Regions from separate parts of the Homo sapiens genome. Here region 2 is linked to region 1. The links come from fine-mapping of genetic effects on gene expression. Tissue or cell type: blood mononuclear cells. Region 1 holds a variant in brackets; the other region holds the start of a gene. All regions are shown on one strand. Distances are between the middles of the regions. Region 1 holds the start of FANCF (FA complementation group F). Region 2 holds the start of GAS2 (growth arrest specific 2).

The links.
Region 2: it holds the start of GAS2, and the variant in region 1 is fine-mapped to the expression of GAS2 in blood mononuclear cells (TOPMed, PIP 0.98).

Annotation. Positions count from the first base shown.
Region 1 is chr11:22,615,062-22,631,649 of GRCh38, forward strand. FANCF (FA complementation group F) reads right to left here and starts at 10,762. Exons shown (of 1, transcript NM_022725.4): 1 at 7,472-10,762. The coding sequence starts at 10,749. The coding sequence ends at 9,625. It also overlaps a transcript of GAS2 not described here. RefSeq lists enhancers at 9,652-9,811, 9,822-9,871, 10,252-10,461, 10,326-11,225, 10,552-10,741. The variant G/A (reference allele first, on the strand shown) is at 9,418.
Region 2 is chr11:22,658,619-22,675,206 of GRCh38, forward strand. GAS2 (growth arrest specific 2) reads left to right here and starts at 7,993. Exons shown (of 8, transcript NM_001143830.3): 1 at 7,993-8,281; 2 at 16,232-16,396. The coding sequence starts at 16,252. RefSeq lists a silencer at 8,073-8,232.

The DNA.
Region 1 (16,588 bases):
GGGTACTGCTTTTGCTGTGTCCCATAGGTTTTTGTATGTCGTATTTCCATTATTTTTTTTTTGAATTTTTTTTCAATTTCCTTCTCTGTTTCTTCATTGACCCACTGTTCATTCAGGAGCATATTATTAATTTTCATGTATTTGTATAGTTTCCAAAATTCCTTTCATTATTAATTTCTAGTTTTATTCCACTGTGGTCAGAGAAGATGCTTGATGTTACTTCAGTTTTTTTTTTTAATATTTTAAGACTTGTTTTGTGATTAACATATAGTCCATCCTTGAGAATGATTCATGTGCTAAGGAAAAGAATTTATAGAAATCTAAAGAATCTATAAAGGTCTGTTAGATTCATTTGGTCTATAGTGCAGAATAAGTTTGATGTATCTTTACTGACGTTTTGTCTGGAAGATCTGTCCAATGCTGAAAGTGGGGCATTAAAATCTCCAGCTATTGTACTGTGGCCTATGTCTCTCATTGGCTCTAATATTTCCTTTTTATATCTGGATGCTCCAGGGTTGGGTGCATATATATTTAAAACTGTTATATACTCTTGCTGAATTGACCCCTTTATCATTTTAGAATGACCTTCTTTGTCTCTCCTTACAGTTTTTGTCTTGGAATCTATTTTGTCTGATAAAAGGATTGCAACTGCTGCTCTGTTTTAGTTTCTGTTGGCACTCTTATTTTCAGTCTATGTGTATTTTTATAGGTGAAGCGTGTTTCTTGTAGGGGACAAATCAATGGGTCTTGTTTTTTCATCAATTCAGCCAGTCTATGTCTTTTGATTGGAGAGTTTTGCTCATTTACATTCAAGGTTATTATTAAGTGAGGATTTACACCTGACATTCTGGTTGCTTTGTAATCTCTTCCTTCTTTGTTTTCTTCCTGTCTTCAACTAGTGAAGGTGATTTTCTCTGGTTATATGATTTAGTTTCTTGCTTTTTATTTTTTGTGTATCCATTGTATGTTTTTTTTGTTTGTTTGTTTGTTTGAGGTTACCATGAGGCTTACATATACTATCATATAAGTCATTATTTTAACCTGATAATAACTTAACACTATTTGCATAAACAAACAAGCAAAAAGAAAACTAATCAAAGTCCTATGCTTCAACTTTATCCCCCCTTTTTTAACTTTTTATTGTTTCTATTTATATCTTATTGTATTGATTATGTCCTGAAAAGTTGTTGTAGTTATTATTTTTGATTAGTTCATCAGTTAGTCTTTCCACTTAGGACAATAGTAATTTACACACCACAGTTACTATGTTATAATATTCTGTGTTTTTCTGTGTACTTACTCGTACCAGTGAGTTTTTACCTTCAGGAGATTATTTACAGCTTATTAGTATCATTTTCTTTCTGATTGAAGTACTTTAGCATTTCTCGTAGGACAGGTCTGGTATTGATGAAATCCCTCATTTTTGTCTGTCTGGGAAAGTCTTATTTTATCTTCGTATTTGAAAGCTATATTCACCAGATTTACTATTCCAGGGTAAAAGCCTTTTTTTTTTTTCTTCAGCACTTTAAATATTTCATGGCACTCTCTTTTGGCTTGTAAAGTTTCTAATGAAAAGTCTTCTGCCAGACATATTGGAGCTCCGTTGTATATTATTTGTTTTTATTTTGCTGCTTTTAGAACGCTTTATCTTTGACCTTTGAGAGTTTTATCATTAAATGCCTTGAGTCTTCTTTCGGTTAAATCTACTTGGTGTTCTATAACCTTCTTATAGCTGGATATTGATATCTTTCTCTAGGTTTGGGAAGTTTTTTGTTCTTATCCCTTTGAATAAACTTTCTCCTCCCATCTCTTTCTCTACCTCCTTTTTAAGGCCAATAACTCTTAGATTTGCCCCTTGAGGCTATTTTCTAGATTCTGTAAGCATGCTTCATTACTTTTTATTCTTTTTTCTTTTGTCTCCTCTGACTGTGTATTTTCAATTAACCTGTCTTCAAGCTCACCAATTCTTTTCTGTGCTTGAATCATTCTGCTATTAAAGGACTCTGACACATTCTTTAGTACACTAATTGCATTTTTCAGCACTAGAATTTCTGCCTGATTCTTTTTAATTATTTCAATCTCTTTGTTAAATTTATCTGCTGGAATTCCGAATTCCTTCTCTGTGTTATCTTGAATTTCTTTGAGTTTCCTCAACACAGCTATTTTGAATTCTCTGTCTGAAAGGTCACATATCTCTATTTCTCCAGAATTGATCCTTGGTGCCTTATTTAGTTCATTTAGTAAGATCATGTTTTCCTACATGCTGTTGAGGCTAGCCGATGTTCTTTGGTGTCCGGGCATTGATGAGTTAGGTATTTATTGTAGTCTTCACTGTCTGGGCTTATTTTTAGCTGTCCTTCTTGGGAAGGCTATTCAGATATTTAAAAGGACTTGGGTTTGTGATCTAAACTATATCTGCGTTAGTGGGCACCTCAATCCCAGCAATGTTGTGATTCTTGTAGACTCATACAGGTGCTGCCTTGATGGTTTTGGATGAGATCCAGGAGAGTTATCTGGATTACCAGGCAAAGGCTCTTGTTTCCTTCCCTTACTTTCTCCTAAATATACAGGGTCTCTCTTTCTCTCTCTCTTTTCTGAGCCACCTAAACCTGGGGATAGAGTGACACAAACACCTCTGTGTCCACCACCATGACTGCAGAAGGTTAGACCTGAAGCCAGCACAGCACTAGGTCTCACCCAAGGCCTGCTAAAACCACTCCCTGTCTACTGCCTGTGTTTGCTCAATGCCCTGGGGTACTACATTCAGCAGATGGTAAAGCCAGCCAGGCCTGTGTCCGTCCCTTCAGTGCAGCAAGGTGTCCCAAGCGCTGGGTGGGTCCAGAAGTGCCATTTGGGAGTCGGGGACGAAAATCAAAAACTTTAGGAGCCTATTTAGTGTTCTAAAGTATTGCAGCTGAGCTGGCATTCAAGCCACACAAGGCAGTCCTTACCACTCTCCCCTCCCCTTTCTAAGGGCAGAGAAGCCTCATCCCACAGCCACTGCCACCCCAGGCCATGAGGAGTACTGGCAGACTACTCTCGATATTCCCTTAAGGCCCAAAGTCTCTTAAGTGTGTTGTGAATACTGCCTGGCCTGGGACTCGTCCTTCAGAGCAGTGAGCTTCCCTCTGGCCCAGGGCAGGTCCAAAAATTCATCCAAGAGTCAAGTCCTAGAATCAAAGACCTCAGGATCACACTTAGTCCCTTCCTCCCCTTGCTGGTACCCAACATGTGGGAAAAAAGGTCCCCTTTACTTTTCCCTCAGCTTTTCTTAAGTAGAAGATTTTTGCCCCCTAGCCACCATTGCTGGTTATGTACAGAGTCTCACCTGAAGCCAGCAAATCTCAGAGGCTCACCAAGGCCCTTGATATAGTGCCTGGGTATCACTGTTGGTTATTCAGGGCCCAAGGGCTCTTCAGTTAGCAGGTGATAAATGCTGCCAGTAGTGGGTCCTTTCCTTCAAGGCAGCAGGTTCCATTCCCTTCTGGCCCAGAGTGTATCTAGAAATGTCACCTGGGAGGTAGTGTCTGGAACAGGGGCCTCACTACTCTGACCAGTCCCTTATTCTGTTGTGGCTGGGCTGGGATCCTACAGGCAAAACAAAGTCCTCCCCACTCTTCCCTCTCTTCTCCTCAAGTGAAAGGGAAGGGTCTCTTTTGGAGTCATGAGCTGTGCCACCTGAGGTTAGGGGAGGAGTGACGACAGAACTCCCTTGGCTGCCCCAGCTGGTTTATCTGTATGCCGTGTGCCCTTCCAGTCCATTGTCTATGGGCCTAACTCAACACAAGGACTTGCCTAAGAGTTTATGGCCTAGATTGCCTTTCAAGTTTACTTGGAGACACAGAGTGCCGTAGCCTCTAGCCCATGGTGGTGAGAGTTGCAGGAATTCAGGTTCCCACTAGGGCTGGTTTAAATTCTCCCTCTGTGGGAAGGATGAGTGTGGTCCAGTTTTCCTTTCTGCTGTAACAGGACAGCACTGAGTTCACTGCTTTACAATTGCTGTGTTCTCCCTCCCCCAGTGCTCAGAGGCTGCTGCTGCCTGGGGTGAGGAAGGGGTGGCATTTGTGATTCAGGACTGTTTTTTAATCACTTCAGTACCTCTTTTGGCAATATGTAGTTAATACCAGATACTATGAGTTCTCACCTGATTTTTGGTTGCTATGAAGATGTTTTTTCTGTGTACATATGTTAACTCAGTGTCCTTGCTGGGGAGGCAAGGGAATGATTGGTTTCTGTTCGGCCATCTTGCTCCACCCTCTTCCTGATATTTAGAGTTGGTTTGGATGTTTGGTTTGAGAGGCTTGTGAGACATTCAAGTGGGGATATTGGTCCTGAAGCTATGATGAGACCTCCAGACTAAAGATATAAATTGTGAAATTCATAGCATATAGGTAGTATTTAACGCCACAGAAATGGATGAGATCACACGGGGTGAGAGCACTACACAAAAGAGGCAGCAGAGTTATTAAACACTGAGAAATCGTGAATATTTAAAGGATGATTAGGAGAAGAGGAGCCAGAAAAATAGACTCTGAAAACATTGCTGGAGAGGTAAGAGGAAACTAGAATAGAGTGGTATCATATAAGTTATAAGAATAGAATTCCAAGCCCAGTTTCAAAAAAGAGGGGATAGGCCATGGTATTTAATGCTGCTGAGAGTCAAGTAACTGAATACCAGAAAAGTGTCTGATATGGTTTGGCTCTGTGTCCCCACCCAAATCTCATCTTGAATTGTAATCCCCACGTGTTGAGGGAGGGACCTGGTGGGAGGTGATCAGATTGTGGGGACAGTTTTCCCCATGCTGTTCTTGTGGTAGGGAGTTCTCATGATAGTGAGTTCTCGTGAGACCTGATGAGTTAAAAGTGTGCCACTTCCTCCTTCTCTCTCTCTCTCTCTCTCTCTCTCTCCTACAGCCTTGTAAGGAAGGTACTTGCTTCTTCTTCACCTTCCGCCATGATTGTAAATTTCCTGAGGCCTGCCAGGCCATGTGGAACTGTAAGTCAATTAAACCTCTTTCCTTTACAAATTACCCTGTCTTGGGAAGTTCTTTATAGCAGTGTAAAAATGGACTAATACAGTGTCCTTTGAATTTAGCATCATGCAGGTGATTGGTGAGCTTGACAAGACTTATTTCAGAGAAGTGTTGATGGCAGAAGTTAGGTTGGTGTGGGTTAAAGGGAAAGAGGACTTCCACTTTTAGCAAATCAATAACTAGATATTCCACAGGGCCCAGCTGCTACAAAACAAATAGATTCTCAATATAACATTCTTTGAATGTTTTGTTGGGATTTCAGAAAATAAAGGAAATTTCCAAGCCACCCCTTCATATCTGTTTCTCCAAAACAGGGAGATCTGAGTAGTAAGCAAGTAAGATTCAGAAAATATGCTTTGAGCAAGACATAAGGTAGAAAAACTCAAGCCAAAACTCTTACAATAAACCAAAGTAGTCCTAGGTTAGGGGGGGTTCTCTATTTCTCCAGCAGAAGCATTTAAAAATGCCCTCATTGGGCAAAGAATACCCTATTTAGACTCCTAGGTTTACATAGAGTATAACCAAACACATGTGAACACACAATAGGAAATTACAAAAGATGTAAAGAAATAAGCCGTCATGAGTGAGAATCAACAGAATAGGTTTAGATCCTCAATACTTCAGGTTGTGAAATAATTAATAGATGATAAAATAACAATGATAAAAAATGAAAACAGAATCACAAAAAGCATGCCATATGAGATTACTAAAAGGTAAACAGGCATATTAGGAGAAAAAAAGCCAAATAAGACTTTTTAAAAATCACTGAAATTTAAAACCAATTGATAGCTTAAACCTCAGATCAGACAGAATTATCAAGACTATACCAATACTACTTAGGGTTATAGGCAATGTTGATGACATAAGACATCCCGAGCAGTGTTCATAAGAGAAAGGTGTATTCCTCTCCTATATTAACAGGACAAGCTAGGTAGGTGGGCTCTGTTTTGCCATTCTGTACATGTGACTTCATCTTTGGGTCTACAGCAATTGTCCCAGTCATCTTCAGCCATATGATTCAAGGTAGCAGCAAACTAGCAGCAAATTAACTTTCTAGCCCATTAAAAGGGAGAAGCAGAGTATTAAGGGCAAATAACTTCAGATTTCTAGGGAATGAATATTAAGTTGTACATATCACTTCTGCTTATATAAAAGTAACCAAAACCTAGCATTATCGCCACATGTAACTGTAGGAGAAATTGGGAAATTTACTCTCTATCTGGGTGGCCATTTTCAGCTAAAACCTGGTGGTAGGCTAAAATGAAGATGGGGAATATTGATCTTGGGATATAACAGCAATTTCCAAAGCAAAATAGAATGATATGGAGATAGAAACTGGGACAGAGCGGTTACATGATATGAGTAGTGTGAGAAGATCTAAGATCTAATATAGGCCCGATCAAAGTGACAGGAATGATTTTTAAAAAGTGGAAGAAAGGAAATATTGGGGAAAAATGGCTGGAAATTTTTCAGAATGAAGAAAAACACATATCCACACATAAATGAAACACAACATAAAACAAGCAAGAAAAACAGAAATTTACAATTAGATATTCTGAAGTGACTATAGATACTGAAATCGGGACCACCTTAAAATAAACAGAAAGAAGAAATCACTCTACAAAATAACCACAAGTAGACGAATAGCTTTCTTATCAACAATGAAAACCAGAAAAGAGTTAATATCTTTAACATGTTAACCTGAAATCAGGAACACAGCAAAACTACCTTCCAACAACAACAAGGAACGATCTTAGTAAATAAAAACTGAGTTTACCACCAAGAGACCTTCTCCAAGGGAATTTGAGGTACAATCATGGGAAACAAAATTGTTAAACCAAAACACTGGATAATAACTTGAGAGTTTATAGATAAGAGATCAGGGTTAAAGTTTCCTAAGGTCCATAGTATCATTAAGAAGGAGGGTTAAGATACTAATATTAGATATTTTTAAGTTAAATATGGTAAGTTTTGAGAGTAAAAGCATGGGTATAGAATTAACATCCTAACTGGTAGAGGGGAAAATATCATGAAATAAGAAGACAAACAAATATTTAGTCAATTAAAGAACTGAGAAGTGAAACATAGAGAAATCAAAGGAAGTGGAAAGCACAAAATAGGATAGCAGGAAAAAGTCCAATCATACAGTGTTAATATATGACAATGATAATAGAAAAAAATAGACTTTAAAGCAGAAAAGCAGTCACTACAAACAAAAGGTTCAATTCATTAAGATGATATAACGATTCTATATTTGTTTGCATGTCATAAAATTGCTCAAAATACATAAGATGATAATTGATAAAATTTCCTGAAACAATGTTACAATGGGAGATTTCAATAGTGCTCCCTCATTTGATAGGACATAGGGAAAAAACACAAAATAAATATCTCTAGATTTTATAAAGAAGTTATCAAATATTCTATTTTTATAGTCTTCCTCTCACTTTTTTCTCTCTCAGTGTATGCGTAGATTCCTAATCTTTTCAAGTCCTTAAGAGAAAGTATATAAAGCTCTAATGCTGGTTTCATTTATTCAAACACTACAAGTATCTACCATATGCTGGACACTGTGCTAGGCTTCTGGAAATAAAATAAATGACAGATACGGCTTCCACTTTCATGTTGCTTTTGTTTATACCCTTGGGCATTTTACTTAATCTTTTAGCGTATATTCATAAGAATACAGTTTTGGTGTGAAGATTAAATAAGATTATGTATGTAATGAACATATGGAGACTAAAATAACAGAATAATAAATGGTAAGTATAAAATAGATTTTAAAATGTTATTTCTTAAGTCTATTGTCAATCTTTACAATTTTATTGTAAATCATAGTGTGAGATACAGCTGCAAATATAGGGAAGTAAGTTCACAAACTGTTATTTTCTAAAGCTAAAGCTAACATTAGGCCTTGCTATGGTAGAACTCTTCACTGGGTTGTTTCTTAAAAAAAATTCACGCAACTGACAGGAGGAATTGTCTTTATTCTTGCATTAATGATAAATGTAATCTACAAGATGGCCTTCATGGATTAGAAAAAGGAATCAGACCACAAGGAAAAAGAAATTGCTGGTTTTCACTCAAGATTTATCTAGAAAAGTGTACTGACTACTGGAATAATAGTTTACCCCTGGGTTGTACCACAGAATGAGAAATTCTACAAGATTATACAACTCTTTTTCTACAAGATTACACTACTCATATTGTTTTTATTCCATTCCGGAATTAGAAATTAACTTTCTAAATATCATTTTTTTCTCCAAAAAAATCCTCTTACCAGCTAACCTGGATATGGACAAAAATATCTTGATTGCTGTAAAGGTCTATCTCCCTAGTAAAAATGAATAAATTGCCCTTGAATTTATTCAAGGCAATCACTATCAGCTGTGGAACACCCAGGTAAACTAACACAACTAGGTTCCTACACACAAAACAAATATTCTAAACTGTTTCCACAGGGCAGCCACCAAGGGAAAAATAAGGAAATTTAACTATTTTATTCTAAACACTTCATTTACATATAAGGCAACTGTGGCCCCAAGGTTGTGATTTATTAACCTAGTTAACGGCAGAAGCTGCACTAAAACCTGGATCTTCTACTTAAAATGTTGTTTTGGCCAGGCGCGGTGGCTCACGCCTGTAATCCCAGCACTTTGGGAGGCCAAGGCGGACGGATCACAAGGTCAGGTGTTTGAGACCAGCCTGGCCAGCATGGTGAAACCCCGTCTCTACTAAAAATACAAAAAATTAGCCGGGCATGGTGGCCTGCGCCTGTAATCCCAGCTACTTGGGAGGCTGAGTCAGAATTGCTTGATCCTGGGAGGCAGAGGTTGCACTGAGCAGTGATCACACCACTGCACTCCAGTCTGGGTGACAGAGCGAGACTCCATCTCAAAAAAAAAAAAGTTTGATTCTTTTATCATCAAGCATTAATTTAATATCCAAAGGCATATATTCGTATTTACTGTGCTTTAAACATTTGTCTGTGCGTCAATGCTTTAAAGGGACATACTATGTGGTGATTCATTTTCAAAGTAAGAATTTGCAGAAAATGAGAAACAAACTTTCTGAACAATACAATTTTAATGCATACTAAGGCTGGTTAACTGGTTAGAATACTAGGTTAACAAGGCCAAACTCCAGATAGGCCAACAGCTTTTCAAACCAATATTCCTGACACTGCCAGGAATAAAGAAAACTCTTCACTACTGAGGGAGGGACAGAAAACCTAGAAAAATAAACCATACTAAAAGAAAAAGGGTATTTTGTTTGTCACTTTAAAGCTGCTTTTTCTTTAAACGGTACACATATTTTCAACATTCTTACAAATGGGCCTTCTATTAAAAAGCAAACTATTGCTAATTCCATGGCTTTAAGTGGA[G/A]TACTTCCAATCACTTCCTCTATCCAGAAAATCCGTGACACTACATGCCAGCTACTTTGCATATTTATAACTGTTTAATAAACTATTCAAAATTAGCATCTAAAATAATTATACTTTGGACACACGAAGGCATATATTTGGTGAGAACATTGTAATTTTCATTTTGTAAACTATATATTCTATATTCAAGTAATAACACAGCATTGCCTATACAGAACTGAGGCCTGCGCTGAGACCCAAAACTTGTCTTTTCCTAAATGCACCACTACGAAGAGCTAATAAGAGGTCTGTCCAGATGCTAAGACCAGGTACTTCAAAATCTCCATCCTGCGCTTTACAGGTCTCCAGGGCAGTTAGAACTTTATCTTTCAGAGGTGGAGGGGCCTGACAGAGGCTTTGAAACCTATTGTGCAACTCCTCCCAGGGCACATCTTGGGACTCAGTTCCAACCCAAATGCCTTTCTGAAGGTCATAGTGCAAACGTTGACCCCAGTCTGTTAGCAGACCCAGATAGACAGGAGACAGCGCTGGGTGGCGGCTAGTCACTAAAGTCAAAAGCCCGGCTGGGAGGGCGCGACAAAAGGCAGCAAAGACTTCCGAATTCCCCAGAAGCCAGTGGACTAGCACTTGGCTCCCCTCTCCAGGTGATTTGTGGATGCCGGGTTCCAACTCTTCTTGGGGCCGACGAGACAAAGGCGGCTGCAACAGCGCCACCGCTATCACCTTCAGGAAGTTGTTCTGAGGCAAGCGCTCCCACAGGCTGCTGAGAAACCTGGCGGGACGCTCCGCTTCGGCCTTCCCCACCTCCTGCAGACGCTCCAGCAGCAGCTCCGCCTGGGTCTTCATCAGAGAGTCCTCCTGGAGATTTGGGTTCTCTCTATAGCCATTGAAGCGCAGCATGTGCACCGCAGACCGCCGGCGGGCAAGGCGGGCCAGGCTCTCTTGGAGTGTCTCCTCATCGGCGTCCCGGACGCCCGGGCCGGGAAAGAGTTGCTGCACCAGGTGGTAACGAGCTGCATCCCCGAGGGCCCGGTTCTCCAGCAGGCGCAGAGAGAGCAGGACGTCACAGTGACCGAGGGCCTGGAAGTTCGCTAATCCCGGAACTGGACCCCGCCCAAAGCCGCCCTCTTGCCTCCACTGGTTGTGCAGCCGCCGCTCCAGAGCCGTGCGAATGGGGCCATGCCGACCAAAGCGCCGATGGATGTGGCGCAGGTAGCGCGCCCACTGCAAGGCCCGGCGCACGGTGGCGGGGTCCCAGGTGCTGACGTAGGTAGTGCTTGAGACCGCCAGAAGCTCGGAAAAGCGATCCAGGTGCTGCAGAAGGGATTCCATGAGGTGCGCGAAGGCCCTACTTCCGCTTTCACCTTGGAGACGGCGACTCTCTGCGTACTGATTGGAACATCCGCGAAATGATACGCCTCTCTGCAATGCTATTGGTCGAAATGCATGTCAATCTCCCAGCGTCTTTATCCGTGTTCCTTGACTCTGGGCAACTTAAAAGCCCTAATACTTTTACTTTCGCCACACAAAGAGGTTCTTCTTAGTGGAGGGAGAGCAGATGTAGGGCATCCTACCGAGAATTTCCGGAACCACGTGCGAGATGATGCCAGTCATGAACGTCTCCGCGCTTCCTTTCGCTTTGGAAATATCCTTAAGTAGAAATTTTCTGAGCTTTGCCTAAAACTAGAATCTGTGTTGAGGTTTTTCAAAATTAAGTAACGCCAGAGACATACTGTGACGTGAGGAAACGCTCTTAAATGAAATTTTAAGATCTATTTGAGAAACATGTACTAAAAATGTACTGACCTCCTATTAATGCCAGGCGCTATGCTGAATTCTGGGCCTTCACATTGTCCTTCCATTATTAGAACTGAAGCCCAGATTATTTGAAACAAAAAATAAACTTCAATAATTTATTAAAATTTGCAAAGGAACAAAATTTTACTTCACAATTGTACATTTCGTTTTCGTAATTTTTAGGACAAAATAGCTTAATTGACTCTTCTGTCATACAAATAATCAGCTGAAGGAAATGGCATTTAAGAGCATCGAACAATAATAAATGTTTGATTAAATAAAAACCGTGACAAGAGAGTAGGGAGGAGAAGGTCCTATGTCGCTCACTGATGCACTTAACAAACATTTGTCAACTCCTAGGAGTTGCATTCTGTACAAAATGCACAACAATTCTTACTTAAGTTCATAATATAGTAATTCATTTGAGCTGAATTTCCTTCCAGTCCTAAAGACACAGCCAAAACTATTCGAAAAGTGGGGGAAGGTGTTTTGTTTTGTACTTTAACAAAAAGGGGAAGAGAAACAAATTTAAAAGAGGGGAAGAGTCATTTTTCATTTATTAAAATAAGCATTCCTACACCTTTTAGAAAGTAAAGCAGTGATGTGCATGCTGTTAATTCAGATTTATGCATTTATTTATTTATTTTGAAACGGAGTCTCATTCTGTCGCCCAGGCGCGGCCAATTTTTGTATTTTTAGTAGAGATGGGATTTCACCTTATTGGTCAGGCTGGTCTCGAACTTCTGACCTCAAGTGATCCTCCCGCCTCGGCCTCCCAAAGTGCTGGGATTAGAGGCGTGTGCCACCGCGCCCGGCTATTATTTGATTTTTATTAGTTATCTCAAACTCTTACTTGGTCCTGAAATCGTTATTTTATTTTATCCTAAGGATACTATGAATCTTAAAATTCTTTTTCTTGGCTACTACAAACTTAGAACCAAGTGTGCAGCCTGCCTTTAGCAAATGTACAGGCATCACTAATTCATTTATTTATTCTTATATTTAACACCTATTATGATACATAGTATGAGGTGCTACAGATTTAGTAGTAAAATAAATGCAGTCCTAGCATGAGTGGAGAAGTTCATCTTGTACCATTTAAGAGAGACATTAAATGAATAACCTCAAATGTGATAGTAGGATGAAATTGAGTGGGGTCACCAAGTCTTAGGGGATAGGAAGGTCTCTTTAATTACTGACTTTTCAGGCCGGAGGCAGTGGCTTATGCCTGTAATCCCAGCACTTTGTGGGGCTGAGGCCAGGCGGGTGGATTACCTGGGGTCAGGAGTTCCAGACCAGCCTGGCCAATATGGCAAAACTCTGTCTCTACTAAACAAACAAACAAAAAAATTAGCTGGGCATGGCGGTGCACACCTGTGATCCTAGCTAATCGGGAGGTTAAGGCAGGAGAATAGCTTGAACCCGGGAGGTGAAGGTTACAGTGAGCTGAGATCGGGCCACTGCACTCCTGCCTGGGTGACACAGCAAGACTCCATCTCAAAAAAAAAAAAAAAGGAAAATGGAAAAAAAAAGGAAAAGAAACCAACTTTTCAGTTGAAAGTTCAAAGCTGAGTGTTCAGAGGAGCCTTCAAGGCTACAGGAATCCTTAATTTTTTTTGCAGGTATCTGAGTTGAAAGAACCAGGCCTATTTAAGGAGGTGGAAAAAATCCAAAAAAGCTTTGATTCAGAATGGGGATGACAGTGTATGGCAAGAATTATGCAGATTAACTTTAGCTTCATACCTTTCTACTTATCTGTTTAAATCTTGATTTTAAATTCTTCCTTGAGCATAGTAACGTATAAACTCCTACATATTTCAGATTAGTCTATTTTCATTAAATAAAATGTCTATGAAGTTTCCCCCTCTAAAGAAAGAAAAGCCTAGCATTTCAACCTATATTCTTGAGGCAGGGTGGGGAGGGATACAAAAACTTAATTATAATGCAAAGCAGATTTTATATATTTTGAAAATTTTAAGAATTTTGCTATGAGAGACTAGATAGAAACTGACAGGAGAGTTCTGGGAAGACTACAGAGGACTGATACTTGATTTAGGCCTCAAAGTGTTTGAACAATCATGGGACAGAAGAAAATCCAAGTGAGAGAAATAATATAAGGTAAAATATATGAGAACACAAATGTGTGTACTGTGTGCCATGAATACCAGGAACAATCTCCCTCCTCTTGGTTTTGATCCCCAAATTCCTGGGATACAGTAAATTGGGAAAGAAAAAGGCCAAATTTCAGCAGATTTTATTTTTATTTATTTATTTTGATTTTTTTCTGTTCTTTGGTGAAGTTTTCAAATATTGTAGCTCATAAAACTTTCTTGTCGTCTTTTCATTGCTTTAACAGAATTTTTTTTTTATTTCAATAGCTTTAAGGGTACAAGTGGATTTTGGTTACTTGGATGAATTTCAGTGTGGTGAAGCCTGAGATTTTAGTTCACCCTCTAACTGAGTAGTGTACGTTGTACCCAACATGTAGATTTTTATCCCTCACCCCATCCCACCTCCCCTGCTTCCAAGTTTCCAGTGTCCATTATACCACTCTGTCTGCCTTTGCATACCCATAGCTTAGCTCCCACTTCCAAGTGAGAACATGCAGTGTTAGGTTTTCCATTCCTGAGTTACTTCACTTAGAATAATGGCCTCCAGTTCCACCCAAGTGGCTGCAAAATATATTATTTCATTCTTTTTATGGCTGAGTAGTATTCCATGGTATGTGTGTGTGTGTGTGTATGTATGTATGCATGTGTGTATATATATATATAACTTTTTTATCCACTTTTCAATTGATGGGCCCTTATGTTGGTTCCGTATCTTTGCAATTGTGAATTATGCTGTGATAAACATATACATGCAAGTGTCTTTCTGATATAATGACTTCTTTTCTTTGGGGTAGATACTCAGTAGTGGGATTGCTGGATCAAATGTAGCTCTACATTTAGTTCTTTGAGACGTCTCCATACTGTTTTCCATAGAGGTTATACTGGTTTGCATTCCCACCAACAGTGTATAAGCATTGCCTTTTCACCACATCCGTGCCAGCATCTATTGTTTTTTGACTTTTTAATAATGACCATTCTGGCCAGGGTAAGGTAGTATCCTTTTCCATAGAGGCTGTACTGGTTTGGATTCCCACCAACAGTGTATAAGCATTCCCTTTTCACTACATCCATGCCAACATCTATTGTTCTTTGACTTTTTAATAATGACCATTCTGGCTGGGGTAAGGTGGTATCCCATTGTGGTTTTAATTTGCATTTCCCTGATAATTAGGGATGTTGAGTATTTTTTCATACATTTGTTGGCCATTTCTGTATCTTCTCTTGAGAAATGTGTATTCATGTCATTTGCTCACTTCTTAATGGGATTATTGGTTTTTTTTTCTTGCTGGTTTCTGTGAGTTCCTTGTAGATTCTAGATATTTGTCCTTTATCTGATGTATATTTTGCAAATATTTTCTCCCATTCTGTGAGTTGTCTGTTTGCTCTGATGAATATTTCATTTGCTATGCAGAAGCTTTTTAGTTTAATTAAGTCTCACTTATTTATTTTTGTTTTTGTTGCATTTGCTTTTGGGGTCTTAGTCATGAATCTTTGCCTCGGTCAGTGTCCAGAAGAGTTTTTCCTAAGTTTTCGTCTAGAATTTTTATGGTTTCAGGTCTTAAATTTATGTCTTTAATACATCTTGAGTTGATTTTTCTTAAATGATGAGAGATAGGGATCCAGTTTCATTCTTCTACATAGGGCTATCCAGTTTTCCTCACACCATTTTTTTTTATTATACTGTAAGCTCTAGGGTACATGTGCACAATGTGCAGGTTTGTTACATATGTATACATGTGCCATGTTGGTGTGCTGCACCCATTAACTCATCATTTACATTAGGTATATCTCCTAATGCTTTCCCTTGACCCTTCCCCCACCCCACAACAGGCCCTGGTGTGTGATGTTCCCCTTCCTGTGTCCAAGTGTTCTCATTGTTCAGTTCCCACCTATGAGTGAGAACATGTGATGTTTGGTTTTTTGTTCTTGCGCTAGTTTGCTGAGAATGATGGTTTCCAGCTTCATCCGTGTCCCTACAAATACCATTCAGGACATAGGCATGGGCAAGAACTTCATGTCTAAAACACCAAAAACAATGGCAACAAAAGCCAAAATTGACAAATGGGATCTACTTAAACTAAGGAGCTTCTGCACAGCAAAAGAAACTACCATCCAGAGTGAACAGGCAACCTGTAGAAGGGGAGAAAATTTTTGCAGTCTACTCATCTGACAAAGGGCTAATATCCAGAATCTACAAAGAACTCCCCACACCATTAAATAAGGTGTCCTTTTGCCAATTTATGTTTTTGTATGCTTTGTCAAAGATCAGTTGATTGTAAGTATTTGGCTTTATTTCTGAGTTCTCTATTCTCTTCCATTGGTCTATATATCTACTTTTATACCAGTGTCATGCTGCTTTGCTTACTATAACCTTGTAGAATTTGATGTTGAGTAATGTGATGCCTCTAGATTTGTTCTTTTTGCTTAGGATTGCTTTGGCTGTTTTTTTGGTTCCATATGAATTTTATGATTGCTTGTTCTAATTCTGTGAAAGATAATGTTAGTATTTTAATAGGAACTGCATTGAATCTGTGTATTGCTTTGGGCAGTATGGTCATTATCATAATATTGATTCTTCCAGGCCATGAGCATGAGGTGTATTTCCATTTGTTTGTGTCATCTATGATATCTTTCAGCAGTGTTTTGTAGTTCTCCTTGTAGAGATCTTTCCTCTTCTTTGTTAAGTAAATTCCTAGGTGATTTATTTTTCTGCAGCTACTGTAAAAGGGATTGAGTTCTTGATTTTATTCTCAGCTTGGACACTATTGGTGTAAAGCAGTGTACATTGTGTTTGGAACTTGAGACTTTACTAAATTCATTTATCAAATCTAGGAGTCTTTTGGAGAAGTCTTTGGGGTTTCCTAGGTATATTATCGCATCATCAGCAAACAGAGATAGTTTGACTCCTTTTTTTCCAATTTGGGTACCCTTTATTTATTTATTATTTCTCTTGCTTGAGTGCTCTGGCTAGGACTTCCGATGCTGTGTTGAATAGAAGTGATGAAAGTGGACATCTTTGTCTCGTTCCAATTCTTAGGGGGAATGCTTCAACATGAATGTTGGCTTTGGGTTTGTTATATATGGCTTTTATTATTTTGAGGTATGTTTCCTCTGTGCTTAGTTTGTTGAGGTTTATGTCATAAAGGGATGCTGGATTTTATTGATTGCTTTATCTGCATCTATTGAGATAATCATATGGCTATTGCTTTAATTCTGTTTGTGTGATGAACCACATTTTTTGACTTGCATATGTTGAGCCATTG
Region 2 (16,588 bases), 44 kb after region 1:
GTCATAATAAAATCTAAATCATAATTTTAAATAATGAACACGAATGATGTAGTTTTGTAGAGTAGGATTGAATGCTCACATAATTCACCTGCTTTTTTAGAACATGGGCATACTGAGAAGAAAGAGTGTGAAGAAAAGAGAAAAGAATAACCACTCGAAAGATCTCCCTGACTTTTATCTCCTCTCCTCTCATTTATTGATTCTGCCATAGGAGTTTGGATCATAATCCTGAAAGATGCAATTCTAAATGCCATAAATCTGAATGTTGAAATTACGAAAGCCCAATTGTGGGGATGAGATTAGTGTGTTTTTGGTTGTATGCAGCATAGTTGCATCATGTTAGTAGTATCATGTTAGGCATAAGTATGATTTTGTTATTGCCTCTTTTTGGAAATTAAGTATAGTTTTAAGGAGATGCATATGGTTGCTAAATTGACAAGGAGTAGATGTGTGAACTTAGTTTTACATGTGTCAATGTGACTGGATTAAGGAATACTTAGAAACCTGTTCAAGTTTTATTTTGGGTATGTCCATGATGGTGTTTCCAGAGGCGATTAATGTGTGAAACTAGGTGGTATAGGTAGGGAAGATCTTTTACTATTAGCTCTGATAATCTAATCCAACTCTGAATCTTGATTGGTATGTTCTTATTCTGCATTTTATTTTGAAGTCAAATTTGTTTGACTCAATTCCTAGTCAGCTTATTATTAAAAATAAAAATGCAACCCCTCCCCTTTAAGAGGCACTTTCAGTCTCCTGGCTATTCAGCCCGCTTAGGCTTGGGAGCTAGTTAAAAAGACATCTTCCCTGACCCCCATCTATCCTCGACTGATACCAGATCCAAAAGAAAAGAGATTATTTCTGTGTAGGATTTGAAACCTTCTCTTGACTTTTCCTGGTTAAAAGTTTTTCCTCAAAAGCCTTCTTCGGTATTCTTTTCATGAGTTCCTTCTCATACTTCTGTGAGGTATTTGACTTAATTCTCTGTGATGTGGAATCTTCACCACATGGGGCAGCTCATCTGGCTTGGAATTAGGATACCTGACAGAAACTTATTTCTTTTCAAAAATGATTTTTTTTCTCAAATAATTTTATTATCACATTTTAACTTTTAAATATAAAATCTTTCTAGTTTTTATCTAAGACATTTTTAAAAATGATATATAGACTCCTGACACCTCCTTATAAAGAAAGAAAAAAGCAAGGATAGAAGGAAGAAAGGAAGGAAAAGAGAGAAGAGAGAAAGGAAAAAATGGAGGGAGGAAGGAAGGAAGGGAGGGAGGAAGGGAGGGAGGAAGGGAGGGAGGGAGGGAAGAAGGAGGGAAGGGAAGGAAAGGAAAGCTCTGTTGCTTCAAATAAGTTGCTTGAAGTTGCTTCCCATTTGTGTTGGGAAATGAGCATATGTTCAAATCAGTCAGACTCAGGCATGAGTTTAAATCTTACCTATGCTGCTTAATAGATGTGTGTCATTAGGTAAGCTTTTTAAAAACCATTTTTGCTATTGGAATGAGCTCCCGGAAAGCAGGGAATGTGACTTCATTTTGATACAAGTGCCTAACACAGAAGAGGTTGGAGAATAAATGAATGAGTGACCCAACAAACCATGAAGCCACTGGATGTCTAAAGAGAGTAAAATGGAATGTTAGGAAGCGAGGAGGGGAAGACTCAGAGAAGGGATGTATAAGATTCTCTGAACGTTTGTATTTTTAATGCTGCTAATATCTTTATCTTAGGGAATTGTTGTAATGAGTCAATAAGAATATTTAGGTACTCACTTAACAATAACATACCTAACATTCATTTAAAACTTGCTATATGCCAAACAGTAAACTATTTTACATGTATTAACTTATATAACTCTCAAGACATGCCTATGAGAGAGTGGTATTTGTTAATCCCACTTTACAGATGTGAAAACTGATAGTTGAAAGGTAAAATAATTTGCCTGTAACTTTTAGCAAACAAGCAAAGAAGCTGGAAGTGGACCCTGCCTGATTTCGTCTGTGACCAAATCTGGACTCCAGATTACTCTGCTAAATGTAGTGACTACGATATTACAAATTTACTATGCCTATTCCTTGACAGCCTCTGTGGGGATGATGGCTGGCGAAACTTCTTTGCAAATGACTCTAGAGACTAAGTGACTACTGTGATCATAGCAGAATGGCAATATTCCTTTATGCTAAGAAAAGCCCCACTGACACTGACCCTATTCCCAGGCAGTTCTCTCACTTTGGGCTTGGAGTACTGCCCTTTTATAGGATGCTTCCTGATCCATTATTTGGAACTACCAAAATGCTTTAATGAGATCATTTTAAGTGTCATATCTTTAAGTGCTTTGTATAAATCAACAGTTGGAAAATATTCCGTATTTGTGAACTGTGTTATAGTTACAATAATGGAAGTTTCAGCAAACCTCTCATTCTTCAACAAAGTAATCCTAAATTTGAAATTATTAGTGTACTTAAAAATCAATGAATAACTGGAGCAATATCTAACTGCAAGAGAATCCCAAGAAATGTGATACTAAAATCTCACTTATAAGTAAATTGTGCTAGTAATAAAGATGCAAAATTAATAACTGGTATTGTCTTTACAGAGGGATCTCCATTTAATTTTCCTTTGATGAGCACAGTTCTTGCTGAATCCCGTCTATCACCCAATGGCACCCACTTTTTCCTCCCTTGGATATGCAGTGGTTTTATGATTTATTTATTTATTTATTTATTTACTCAATTATTTGGCAACCTTAGGCTTGGTATTGTGATAAAGATTTGAAATATAAGGATGAATAGTCTAGTCCCTACTCTCTAGGACTCACAATTTGGTAAGTGAGATAGATGCATAAACAAATAACTGTGATACTACATTATAAGTGAGAAATAAAAGAAATAGCAAAGTGCTCAGAGCACTGGACATAGAGTCACAAAAAATATCTCTACCAGAGAGATCAAGAGAACCACAAAGAAGGTGACAATTAAGCTTTCCCTAGAAGAGTGAATCAGATTTCTTCAGAGGGAGACAGTGAAGGTAAAAGATCATTTTGGTTAGCATGAGGAAAGGCATGGAGGTGTAACGGTATAAGATGTTTGGGATGTTGTGACATTACATTGCATCAAGTCTACCAATAACAATATATAAACATATCTGTTTCATACTTTGTAATGAAACCATCTGTTAATTGAGACCTTACCTCACTTTTTATTGATTTTCCCCTTAGTTTAGTTTCTTTACAGTCAGATTTTTTTAAAACTGTAGGTCATAAAACAAATTTAGCAGCTCTCTAATAGCATTTCTTTAAAATTGAATAGCATAGAAGAGACTATAATAATGTCAAGTAGAAAAATATCAGAGTGCAATATAATAGTAAAGTACGTAATGTTTTTGTGAAACATACTTAGTTTATTTGTGTCTAAGTGTTCTATGTGTCTGTTCCATAATGTATTTCATATTGTGGGTCACAATAAAAATTTGAAAGCCACTGCAGTAGTAATATTTTCTATTGCTTTTCATTGCACTCTTGTTATATTGGCTATGATTAAACCTTGAGTCCAAATGAACCTAGGTTTTTAATGAAGTGACAAGTGACACAGACTGACCTCATTTATAAGCCTGGCACACAGGCAAGCATCTGTTTTAGTGAACTCTAGTTACATTTTACCAGATGAAATGCTGCTAGCTTGGGAGTGAAACTATCATTTGTAATGTTATTTTAACATTGCTTTTCTATTCTGGATTCTAAACTATTAAATTAGAGACAATATATAAAGATATAACCAATTAGTTGTATATTTTCTAAGACACCAGCTTCTAAAATAATCATTCATTTCTTTCAACAATTATTGAGTGTCTACTATATGTCTAATGATATTCTACATGCCAGAGATGTAGTGGTGGAAAAGACAAGAAAGGTTGTTGAAATAAACATATTTTACATTAAACATTTATATTATACTTGAGGTACTTGTGATTAAAGTAACATGACATAGACTTTTTTAAGATTTAGAAGCAAACTACAAGATAAAGAAAGAAAGAAAACTTAAAAAAAAAACACCTTCAACTTAGACAACAGACGTCACACCACAGAAGGTACTGCATAGGATATTTAAAACTAGATGAGGCAGGGTGTGGTGGCTCATGCCTCTAACCCAGAAACTTTGGAGGGTTGGGGTAGGGCATCATGTGAGGCCAGGAGTTTGAGACTAGCCTGGGCAACATAGTGGGACTGTGTCCCTGGGCAACATAGTGGGACCGTGTCTCTGCAAAAAAAAAAAAAATAAAAATAAAAAATTAGCCACAGTTGGTGGCTGTGTTAGTCTGTTTTCACTGTGCTATAAAGAACTACCTGAGACTGGGTCATTTATAAAGAAAAGAGGTTTAATTGACTCACAGTTCTGCATGGCTGGGGAGGCCTCAGGAAACTTACAATCATGGGGAAAGGCAAAGGGGCAGCACGGCATGTCTTACATGGCAGCAGGAGAGAGAGAAAGAGAGAGGGGAAGTGCCACCCTTTTAAAACCATTAGGTCTTGTGAGAACTCCCTCACTATCATGAGAACAGCATGCGGGAAACGGACCCCATGATCCAGTCACCTCCCACCAGGTCCCTCTCTCAACATTTGGGGATTACAATTCTAGATGAAATTTGAATGGGGACATAGAGCCAAACCATATCAGTGGTGCTCACTTGTGGTCCCACCTACCGTGACACTGAGATGGGAGGATAGCTAGAGCCTGAAGGTCAAGGCTGCAGTAAGCCATGGCAACGCCACTGCAATAGCCCTTCTCAAAAAAAAAAATAAAAAAATAAAAAATAAATGAATAAAAGTAGATAAGACAAATGGCATATTTCACAAAATGATTTTTAATCTATTTCTTATGTAAAAATTAGAAAACATATGCTTATACCTAACACAATTTGCCAGAAAAAAATGAGTCTTGCACAGGAGGGAATTAATATTTATGCTACTGTTGTGTTGTACTTAAAAAGTTTAAAGTTCTCCACTGAGAGTAAAGTAATAGATTTTTTAAATTGCATATTAGATGGAGAGTAAACCTTGAACTTTACATATGAAATTTCTTTGATTTATCCTTGTAGTTTTATATATGAATGGTGGTGAAAAGTAATAGCATTTATCGTTTAAAATTTCAGAAACAGTCTGTTTTTATTCGTAACACTATTTGTAATGACTATGCTAGGATTTATAAAATTTATTCTCTTTGCCTTATGACATTAAAAAACTATAATTCAAAATATGTCAATTGAAGGCCTTATATTATAGACTAAGATGCTAGGTTGGGAAAAATAAACATATTTGACCTCACTGAGGAAGTATGTCAACAAAATGTAAGTAAATGATTTAAGTTATTATTAAATATATGTCTTCATGTATTTTTTAATACCATTGCATGTCTTCATACTGCTTTCTGTATCATTATTCTCACTTGCTTCCCAAGCTGTCTTTTGTCATTTTTAACTGCTCCTTTGAAGCTGTTTAGGAATATAAGTCTTTCTTGGTCACTTCTGGAAATTTATTTTACCAAATTTAACCCAGTGGCTGTTTCCGTGTTATTTAATTTTTTCTCAAAGTGTCCTCTAACCTCAATCATTTATTGAAGGTTTGCTTCACTTTTCAGAGTGAGTACTACATATATTATTTTCATTTGGGAGAAGGACTAAGAGAGAAAAGGAGAGTTATCTACATAGGAGGGAAAAATAACGTGTTTTATTGATCATTTTTAAACTCAAAAAAGTATTTATTAGAGAAATGAGAAAATTCATGTTTGAGACAATGTTGAAAGTTTAGAATGTGGGACACACATAGTAATGCAGAAATTTCCCGTGTTAAAGTCCTCTAACTGTGATCACTTGAAAATAAAAACTAAACTGTTTAAATCTGGCTTGACTTCTTTTTAATGGTGTTAAGTTTCAAGGATGTATTTAAACATTTTTCATCTTATTGAAGTATTTGCTTCCTTTGCATTCACATTAGAGAAGCTATAGTTGCTTCAGTTGGACTACATTTTCCTAAGGTGAACAGTTTGGGTTGAGTCCACACTAAACTAAGAAAATACTTAGACAAAAGATTATCTTTGACAAATATATCAGTGAGTGATCAGAATATATAAATAGAAATATTGATTTTGAAAAACAAGATAAAAATCAAATGGGAATTTTTACATATGCTAAAAAAATTAAAATAAAAACACTGTATCCGTGTCTCTTCAGAAATCTTTTGTATTACTTCTCTTTTGTCACCAAAAAAAATATTCAGTACAACTCTTAGATGTTAATGAAAGAAAAAACACATTATTTATTTCTTCTCGTATTTTTCTTTTCGCTCTTTCTGAGAGACAGAGGATCTGACATAATGCAAAATTTAAGACAAAAAAAAAAATACCTGGAAGAAATGAGCATGGAGAGGGAGTAATTTTGAATGATTATGCTTTCCCAATTCCTCTGTAAGCCTCCTTTTTTTCCCCAAACTGTATTTAGCATTGTTCCTGAATCAACAAAAACATTGCCTTACTCTTAGCTTTTTATAACACCAATAATGAACAATGTGACAAGAATATTCATATCTGGGGAGAAATAGGATGTAAGATTTTGAAAGTTCAAGGTGCTAAATTTTTTGAACTCATTACATATTTGGATAATTCTTAAATTAGCATTTATTGGCTGATGATGTTTTGATCAGGAAAAATTATCAAGAACATTTGATTTTTTACTAAATTGTATGTGTTCAGACACTCAAAATTCTTTGTTGGGGCTCTAGGAATACTCAGATCTGATCACATTTTAAGAAATTTTATCATTCAGATTCGTTTACTAAAACTCATCAGTAATGAGTTCTGTATGTTTTGTTGTTATTTATGTTTATCCAAGCTGTTATGTTGACCTTTTAAAAATGCTGTTTCTCCTTAAAATTAAGAATAACTATTTTTCCCTTCTTTTAGAAAGCTAAGGAGGAAATGTGGACCTGATAGCTGCAAAAGCAAATTGAACTAAAATAAAAAGTTCGGAGTTCAAGGACTCCAAACTTTTCAATCGGTTTTCTCTTCTTCTTTATTAAATGTATTGCCACTAGAAGCAAATAACTGATGCAGTTTCTGCCAGATAATGGCAATAATAAAGGTGAAATGTGAATATTTTTTAAATTATATCTAAAATCATCCACATCATTTAGCTTGTGGATGTACAGGTAGTTTCTATTTGGGAGTGGGGCTAGGTAACTCATCATTATAAAAATGGTATCCAAGCAAGGATCACAATACCTGTACCACTGCCATTGTAAACATTGGATGGCAATATACATGAAACTGATGAACATGAGAACAAAACAAAATAAAAAGTGTAATACATTTTATTTATGCTCCATGGGAGGTGGTAACCTGTGGGGATCAGCACACTCAGCAAGCGGTCCCCGCGCATTAGAGGTGAATCAGACACTTGAACATCTGTCCACTTCATGGAAGACGTTTCATCTCAGAATACACGTACTAATAAACAACAGTTGGAGACAATTGTCTCTGACATTCAACATAATGCTGAGCTGAGGCTGAAAGAAGGAAGGGTGGAATTGTATTTCCTTTGGTAAAGCAAAAACAGCCGTGAGTACAGCCTCTTCTAAAAATCTGATATTTAAAGAGAATTGTAAGACATCAAAATGTTCAATTTGGAATGAAGAGTGGCCGAAGTTACTGGAAAGCTCGTGCCTCCGTCTGCAAAATCACTGGCCAGGAAAGCAAAAACTTTTCCAACACCCAATTTTAATATTGTGCTAAAGCTATTGACTCTGTTAAACCTCTAGAGTTAAATATGATCCCCTCCCCAGCCCCCACCTTTTCTCTCTTAGGTTAGTGTCTGGGGGACAAGGAGGGGGCTGGAGCTTGGCCCCAACCTCGGAATTGCTGCCAAGGGCTTGTAATACAATCTCTCCCCGTTTGAAGGGTAAATCAGTGTCAACTGCATTTGCGTCCACCAAAAAAAGTAAGCATTTTACTTCCGCTCGGTCTATGAGGACTGATGAAATGTAGGAAATCTGTTTCTGGCAGGGAGAAAAAATCGTTTTCCCAAACAGCACTAAAAGGAGCCATCAGAGAAGTATGAAGAGGGGTAGTGCGGCTGTAGCTGCTGCCGCTGCCGCCAGGCTGGTGGGGTGCGGGGAGCGGCTGCTGCAGGACCTGTGCCTGGAGGGGGCCGGCCCCGAGAAGCTGCAGGAGCCCAGCCCGGAGCCCAAGCGCCTCTGAGAGCCGCCAGCAGCCCAGCTCGGGACGCGGGGGTGAGCACGACTGGCTGGCCCAGTTCTGCGCCAACGCCGCCGCAGCGTGCGCGCACCGCAGCCGGGGCTCACGGGAGCCCCTGCCTGTCTACTGCACCCGGGGCGGCGGGGGAGGGGAGAGGTCATTAAAAAATAACCTCAGGAACGAGGCGGGGAAGAGTGAAGAGCCGCGGACAGTTGGACAGGCTCTTTCTCTAAGAGTGGGTATTCACTGCAGGGGGTGACTTTCTGATTCTCTGGAAACAACCATGTGTTCCTTATCCCTATTGCGGAACACCCCGGACAACCGCAGCACGTAAGCCCGCTGGGGTGGCTCTGCCAACCAGGGACAGAGTGAGGATTTTTAATGAACACATCGATTATAAATGCACACATATGCATTCGTGCACAAGAGTATCTGTAATGCATGCTCAGCATTGTCTGTTATGGTGGGGTGGGATAGAGCCAGAATGGTCTTAAAGGGCTGATCCTGAATGTTTTACTTGAGTCGTTGAGGCCAGGATGGGAGGAAAGAGCGCCACATGTGTGATCTGGGGTGATACTCACTGTGTCTGATGAGTTTGATGAAATTGAGTTTTATGTGAATAAACAAACGCTAGCCGATATATATCAACACACTTTGGGGAGATTTTGCGTGGTATCGTTCTTTTTGTTCAGTCCAAAGTTGAGACTGGAATCTGAAATTGTTTGGGGAACAAAGGAGGCAATTTTGCTTTGGAGACATTATTTATACTGGCAAAATTAAATTCTGTCAACTCAGTATGGTAAATTACCATTAACTTAGCCCAGGTATCCGAAGAAGTTTCCATTGTCTTGAATGAAGAGGGAGCAAAAGCGAGGGTTAACAGATTCTGTTTCTACATTCTAAAAACAATTGAGGTTGGGGGAGGGTTGTTAATTCTTTTCCCAGTTAACCTTTTTGAAATCACAGTCTTTACCCTCTCCATCTTCTTCATCTTCATCCTCTCACCTCCGTGATCTTCTTACAGTGAAGAGTTTGCAAAACTTTATTCTTATAAAATTATCTCCTCCAACCCTCTCCAACAAGGTTAGATCAGTTGTGTATGAGAGATCTTATGCCAAGGAAATAAGATCTGCTTGTGCACAGGAACACCCATTTGACATCCTAGTATTAAAATAAAGGCTTAGACAGTTTGGATGTACCAGCCTGGCAGAGGAAGTCCACTTTTCCTCCCCACGTATCCCCTGAGATTCACAGAGGCAAGGCAGAGAACAAGACCTGTGCTTCTTTACTCCAAACTCTTAGCAGTGTGGACACTGATTAACTGCAGCTGGGGTCTGATTTGCCCAGCCTGTCTTTGATATTGATCAATGAACTCCTTCTCAAGGAATGCTTTCCTCTAACTGCGGTGAAGGTGGTGGCTCTGGTGGTTCTCTCCAACATGGGTGTCTGGGTTTTGACTGCCTAAGAGAAGGTAAGGGACAGATGGATGAGGCATGGGACAGTGTGCCTTTGCAAAGCACATTGGAGACTTTGCACAGGGCTGCCTGAATGGTCCCTTACATGGAAAAGGTAGCTTGGATTTCAGCCTGAATGCTACTGAAGTTTGGGTTTATTTCATTACTTTATTGCTAAACACTATGCTGTGGTGTTATGGACTGTGCTTTACTGGGAAATAAGTTCACATGGCAAAAAAATATTTCACCAGGTGCAAAAGGTCATGTGATTGCCCTGGAATTTTTTAGCATCTTGGTTAGAAACTTCAGTTAAACCTCAAACTTTCGAGTATGGTGAAATACCTGGTCTTATATTAACCCTAAGTATGTTGTGTGTTACTTAGAAATCTTACTTCAAGACTGGAAGTCTGCATTGAAGACTCAGGGAAACTTTGGAAAACTAAGTTACCTTGGTTGAGAAGGCATGATGAGGCTGTAACTGTTTACAGAGAGACTTTTGTTTAAAACTGCAGGGCATGTTGTAAGGTTGGTTTGGTATCTTTGTGGTTTTGATATTAAGGTCCAAACAGGATCCAACTGTTTCTTTAAACCTGAGCAACTAGGAAGGTTTCCACTCAATGTTTTTTGACTAGAGAAATGAACTGGAGTAACAGTAGAAAATAATCTGCTGTCAAAATTAAGTAAGAGGCTTATGTAAGTTTCTGTATTAAATGTTTTCAGCATCAATACAATTAAAACTTTGCTAATTTTACTCCTTTATGTGAGACCATGTCACATATGTGTATATATTTCCACAGAATGTAGAACCCTGCTGGTTCTTAACTACATTATAGTTAACTAAAACAGAAATCTTTATATTAAAACAACAGAAAAGAATTTTCTCAACTTAGATAAAATTTTGATGTAAATCCTTAAATATTCTAGTTGTTAATATTGTTAACAATAGTCATTAGACTGTCATTAGACTGTCAGATGGTTTTCTATTTTAATTATGTTCCAAGCTAATCTGGTAGGGGTTAAAAAAACCTATGCTAAATTGTTTGGAAGGATGTTTTAGTATGATTTCTTTAAAACTTTAAAATATCCCTAACAACATGAAAATATAGAAAATCAATTCCCATTCAGGTTTTTTTAAATCATGATTTGAGAAGAAATTGTTATTTGTAACTACACCATCATTTCACCCAAGACAAATCAAGATGGGACTGTGGGATAAGAAAGAGATCTCTAAAAGAGAGTCAGCACTACACTAAATTAAGGATCACAAGAGCTGAGTAGGATACTTTTAATAATTATGACTAAACAGTCTTGTTACTGTGGGCAAAATATCCTCTTAGGCTACCAACCCCTTATTAATTACGAGGAGTTTGAATATATCGTTATTGTAAGGTTCCTTTCAATTTAAAGATTTTTATTATGGAATTAGATAAACTACCATTAAGTGTCATTTTGCTTTATGTTTGGTGCTTTTCAATTTGTGGATAAGTTGCTCTACTGAACCCAAGGTGGAGGTCCCATTACGAGGTCTGAAATTGCCTTTCTGTTGAAATTGTGGACTTTATTTTCTGATTAGACCTTTAGAGTAAGATTTTGTATCCATGACATTGGTTGAAAATGTATATTTTGTGAGATACTATTAATTAGCCAAAATGAATCACAAAAGAGTGAAGAACTCACAATGATGAAAGAGATATCTAGAACTTTCCTGGGTGGTTTATTCTTTGAGTTCAGCTAGGAAAATGGCATTTTCTCTTTCCAGATTTTGGAAGGGTATTCGATTTGGAGCACTGTTTATTTTTAATTTTAAAAGGTAACGTGATTGACCAATAAACTATTTCCTCAGTGTTTGACACCTGTAACACATGAAACTGAATAGATGTGGGGAACAATGCTGCAGATGACAGCAAAGATTACCTTTAGGGAGGAGACCTTTGACTGTGGGTTGATTAGGATTCATTGTTTTCAATGTTCACAGTTGAGTCTGTGTGTGTAGATGGGGTGGTGGTAGTGATGTCCTCTCACACTTACTTTGAGAGGTATATAGCATTTCCCTATTAACTGATTAATCATCATCTTAGGGGCAGCATTCTTCTCCATATGAAGAAAACTTGGAATAATCCATTATCTACTGTATCATTAATACATTTATTTGTTCTCCCCGTTGTCCTTTGTCTTTTCTTAATTATTTAGAGTTCTATAAAATATTCCTATTTTGTCACAGAATTGCTTTCCGTTTTGGGATAGGTCAATAGAAGTTTTATTTTGGCACATTTCTGATGGTGATCATTTCTATTTTGCTAATAAAAAACATATCGAATATTAAATATATGCCAAGCATTGGCACAAATATTTAATCCTCACAATTATCTTTAAGTTTTCAGCCTCCGTTGTATATAGTAGAAAACACAGGTACAAAGAGGAAAATTCATATGACTAGAATAGAGTAGCTACTAAATGGTTAGGTAGTGGACCTATTATTTGACCCTGGACTTCTGATTCCAGTTCCAATATTCTATCCATTATTCAGGCTTCTAAGTGAAATCTCATAGCCGACAGAAGTGTATATCATTTCATGTTTTTTGTCTTTCCAGTTGCTTTTCTATGTAATGTTGCAATGCATTTTCTCTAACATGTCAGCAAAGCCTAGAGATAAGCCAGAAATCATCTTGGTCATAGTCAAAGAACACCTCTAGGTGGCATGGAAGAATACTTTTTCTTCAGAGTCAAAACTATGATGTCTTCAGCTGGGATTCTGGGACAACAAACTAGACAGAGTCTTTAAACATGTGATATTTTACTTACAAAGTCATTATTTTTTTCTTTTTCTCCTGGGCTATTTCAAGTCTCATCATATTCATAATTGTTATTCCAGAATCACTTCTACTATGGAAAGAAAGAAAAAATATATACACACACAGTCTTTGAAGGATTTAGTATTAAGTTTCTGCATGTTTTTCTCTTGAAGTTTTATTTTTCTGGATTCCTAGACCTAAGGGTTGGTTATCCATTTTAGGTAGACCGAGAAAGCTTGGAGGAGCCATAGAAGTATTTGAGTACTTACTCCCCTTTTAAAAGTGATTGGCTTTGTTTAATAGTTACTAAAGTTACTTATCAAGCTTTTAAAATACTTGGACTATATACACTTTATTGGAAACATCATTCAGTGTTTAGGCACATTATACAAAAAAGTTTTTCTTTCTCCCTAACCTACTGCTTTCTTCAAGTCTAGTGGATCATCAGTCACTTTATTTCCCACCTTTTTAAAAAGTTACCCCTTGGCATCTCTTGTGGTTTTGAACACTTTTGAATGAATTCAAGAGAACTGAAATGATCTTTTTGTGTAGCTTGTTCTTTACGATGTAATTCATCTGATCCATATTGACTAAACACTTCTTTAAAAAGTTACAAGGAGGGTAAAATTCCATAGTGATCTTTTTATGGGAATAAGATAAATTAATTTGATCTTTCTTCACCACAATATAATCATTTTAGTTGGAAACTACTTCACCATGGGGTAAATTCTCCATACTCCAAATTTTGATCATGCTAGCTGAATCCATTTTTCATGTTTCGTATTCATGGATTAGCCAAATCTAAATCCAAGACCTGCAGGTATTGACTTTCAGCCAAACCGTTGAGTCATTTAAGTTTGGCAGTGATTTGAAATGTGAAAAAAAGGATCATGAGAAATTGGATTGAGAATCTGAATTCTTTTAAGAAGGGGCTTAAACAGAAGAGTCCTTATCTATGACAGTGACTTTAGGTTTCTACATATTTGACATATGTCTAATTGTGTAACTTCTATTGCATGTTAATTACTCACTAAGCCTTCTTTCTCTCACCTCTGTCTCCTGGGGAAATGTAACTGTGTTTTTGCTTTTTTCTCACCACTAAAATTTTGACTGTATACAAAGTAACAAAATAAAAATTGCTTAATTATTCTTATTGTTTTTACTTAATGTTCATCTCTAATTATTAGAAGGTAGTTTGAGTTACTTTTCTGGCAAAACACAGGACAGAGTACATGAGAAATAAATGTGCCACTGTCAAAGAAAATAAAAACTTCACTGTTTAGAGGTTTTGAGGGAAAGGATTGTGTCCTTCTGGCTCATTGAAATTGTTACATGCCATTAGGCTTACTGTAAACTATCCCTTGATAAATTATTTGCTGGACAATGAGCTTAAGAATCTGAGGTGTCTTCTTGCTTTTATAGAGCAAAATAGGACTCTGATGCTTAAATGGAAGTCACAGAGCACATAATAGGGTGTAGGTAAAGTTACTGAACAGCCACATCTCACTTTCAGGAAAGTAGTGGAAGAGATTGTGTCTTGAGAAGACAGGCATTTTAGAGGTAACCCTTTTAAGATTTCAATTAGTTATTTAAGTATATGAATCATGTGCTTATATGTATTACTTAAATGTTTCTGAGGCCAGCAGGCATATAGGAATCTTAACCAGCTACAGGGAGAAGTTTTGTTTTTCTAGGACTAGACATATTTTTTTTTTAACTGGGGCAGAAAATGCTTTGGGTTTTTCATGTTTAATCACAGAATTTGGAGAAAACTTTAGGACTTTATATGGATAACATCATTATTAACTATGAAATAATAAAAAGTGGTGTTCTGATTCCCATAATGACAATCTAATAATGTATGACAAGGTGTATTGAAAGCAGTTCACATTTTCAATGGTTGACTTTAGATAGATATATATAAGATGTTTTCAGAGAAAATTTATGGTATTTTTTTCAAAAATTACTCGACAGTAATTTAATTAGAAATGAAATTGTGCTTTTAAATACTATATTTATGATACCTTTTAGGTACTTACTCATACTCCCAACAGTCTTTTCTATTACTACAGCAAAATATTTGAGAGATGCTCCCACTTTGCATTTTTCTAAACACCAGTGTCTTATTTGTTCTTCAAAAGCAATATTTAAAATAAATTAACTTATGTTAAGTGAATTAGAGTTTGAGGTTAACTGGAAAGGAATACTGTGTAGAGTTTCAAATAATAAAACCAAAAGGAGAATATATTACTTATTGGTAACTTTAAAATGCCATAAATACTGCAATATCACTGAAAACCTCATGATATCATATAAACATTACCTCTTGCCTATTGCAAGTATTTTCATTTTCATTGTCATACAGTCATAATGCATCTGGTTATTTCATAAGCATATTTATATACAGCGTAGAATCCTGCATGTTATTAAACATGACTATTACATTAACTGCTTCATTAGTTCTTCCGTAGTCTTACATCCTATAAATAATGCATACAAAAGTGCTATATTCTGTCCGGGCATGGTGGCTCAACGCCTGTAATCCCAGCATTTTGGGAGGCCGAGGCAGGTGGATCACTTGAGGTCAGGAGTTAAAGACCAGCCTGGCCAACATGGCGAAACCCCATCTCTACTAAAAAATACAAAACAAACAAACAAAAATGCCATATTCAAGGCCAAATATATATTCAAATACCTTTTCTACAACCCAAGTAGGGGATTGCACTGCTCACAATATGATCAGGTTAATGAAAGCATCCTTGTTTTTATAGATGTAAGATATTTAAGTACTTCTACTCTAAAGATACTTTCAAACAAAACGCAGCATGTAAAACAAATAAAGTGGAAAGATAAAAAACAAGAAAGAGAAAGAGATTGTTGTAGCAATAGCAGAGGACAAACAAACACCTCTGGCAGCATTTGTTAGAACTATGATGCAGTGCTTGGGTTATCATCAATATGGGTTCTTGGCTATTCCATTTTGTAAAAATGTGTCATTACAGAAAGAGTAGTGGTCTTGGGAATATGAAGACTCAGGTTCAAGCCTAGTTCTGTCATGACCTAGCTGTATGATCTTGGTGAAGTCACTTATCCTCTATTTTTTTATTTTTTTTTTTTATTTTTCTTTTTTTGGTTTCTTTGACTGCAAGAGAGAAGTGTGGTAGAGAGTCTTTGGGTGTACCTCTTCCCCTGCTTCTCACCCAGTTCTCTAAATTGTGAGTCCATGATTGCTTGGCCGTCTCCAAAAAAGAAGTACTTTGCTTAACCTTTTAGGCTATATTTTTAAGGGTAATGATCATGTGTTTACAGTGAGTTGTAAAAATGCTGTCATTGCCAGTGTTCAGTCATAAAATTTGGTGAAAATCTATGGTTTTAAATAGCCCAAACAATGGGAGTTAACAAATTGGGCACTAACATTTTAACTTTTTCTCGTGTTTCAATATGTGGAATTTCTTGCTTAGAAGCTGGCTCTTTCCAAGTATATTGTTTCATACAAACTTGGAGTTTCTTGTTTGATTTTCTATTTGACCTTTGATTGCTGCTGTTTTCCTACTAAGTGTTTGGCCAAAAGTGAGAGGGCCAGTACAGATAAAGCAAATAGTGTTTCATGGGGTTAATAATTAATAAACTGAACTGTCATCAGAAAACCCGCGGATCCAGTTCATTATAATGTCATGATGACAACATTTTGTGAGAGAAGTCTGTATAAAAAGCAATTGCTCTTTTGTTTCCAAAACAGGTATTACAAGTGGATAAATAATGTGCACTGCTCTGAGCCCAAAGGTACGCAGTGGACCTGGCCTCTCTGATATGCATCAGTATAGCCAATGGCTAGCCAGCAGACATGAAGCTAATTTGCTACCAATGAAAGAAGATCTGGCCTTGTGGTTAACCAATCTATTAGGTAAGGTTATAAGATCTCATTTTGTGAGCAAAGACAACAGTTTTTGTTTTATTTTTCCTCCTGTAGTGTCCTTCACCTAAGCATGTGATAGCACCTTGGAAAGAAAGACTTTTATTATTTGACATTTGCATCTGGGAAACCTGAAGCAGGTGGAAAATTTAAGTGAATTTCCCAATGTCTGTCATATTAACT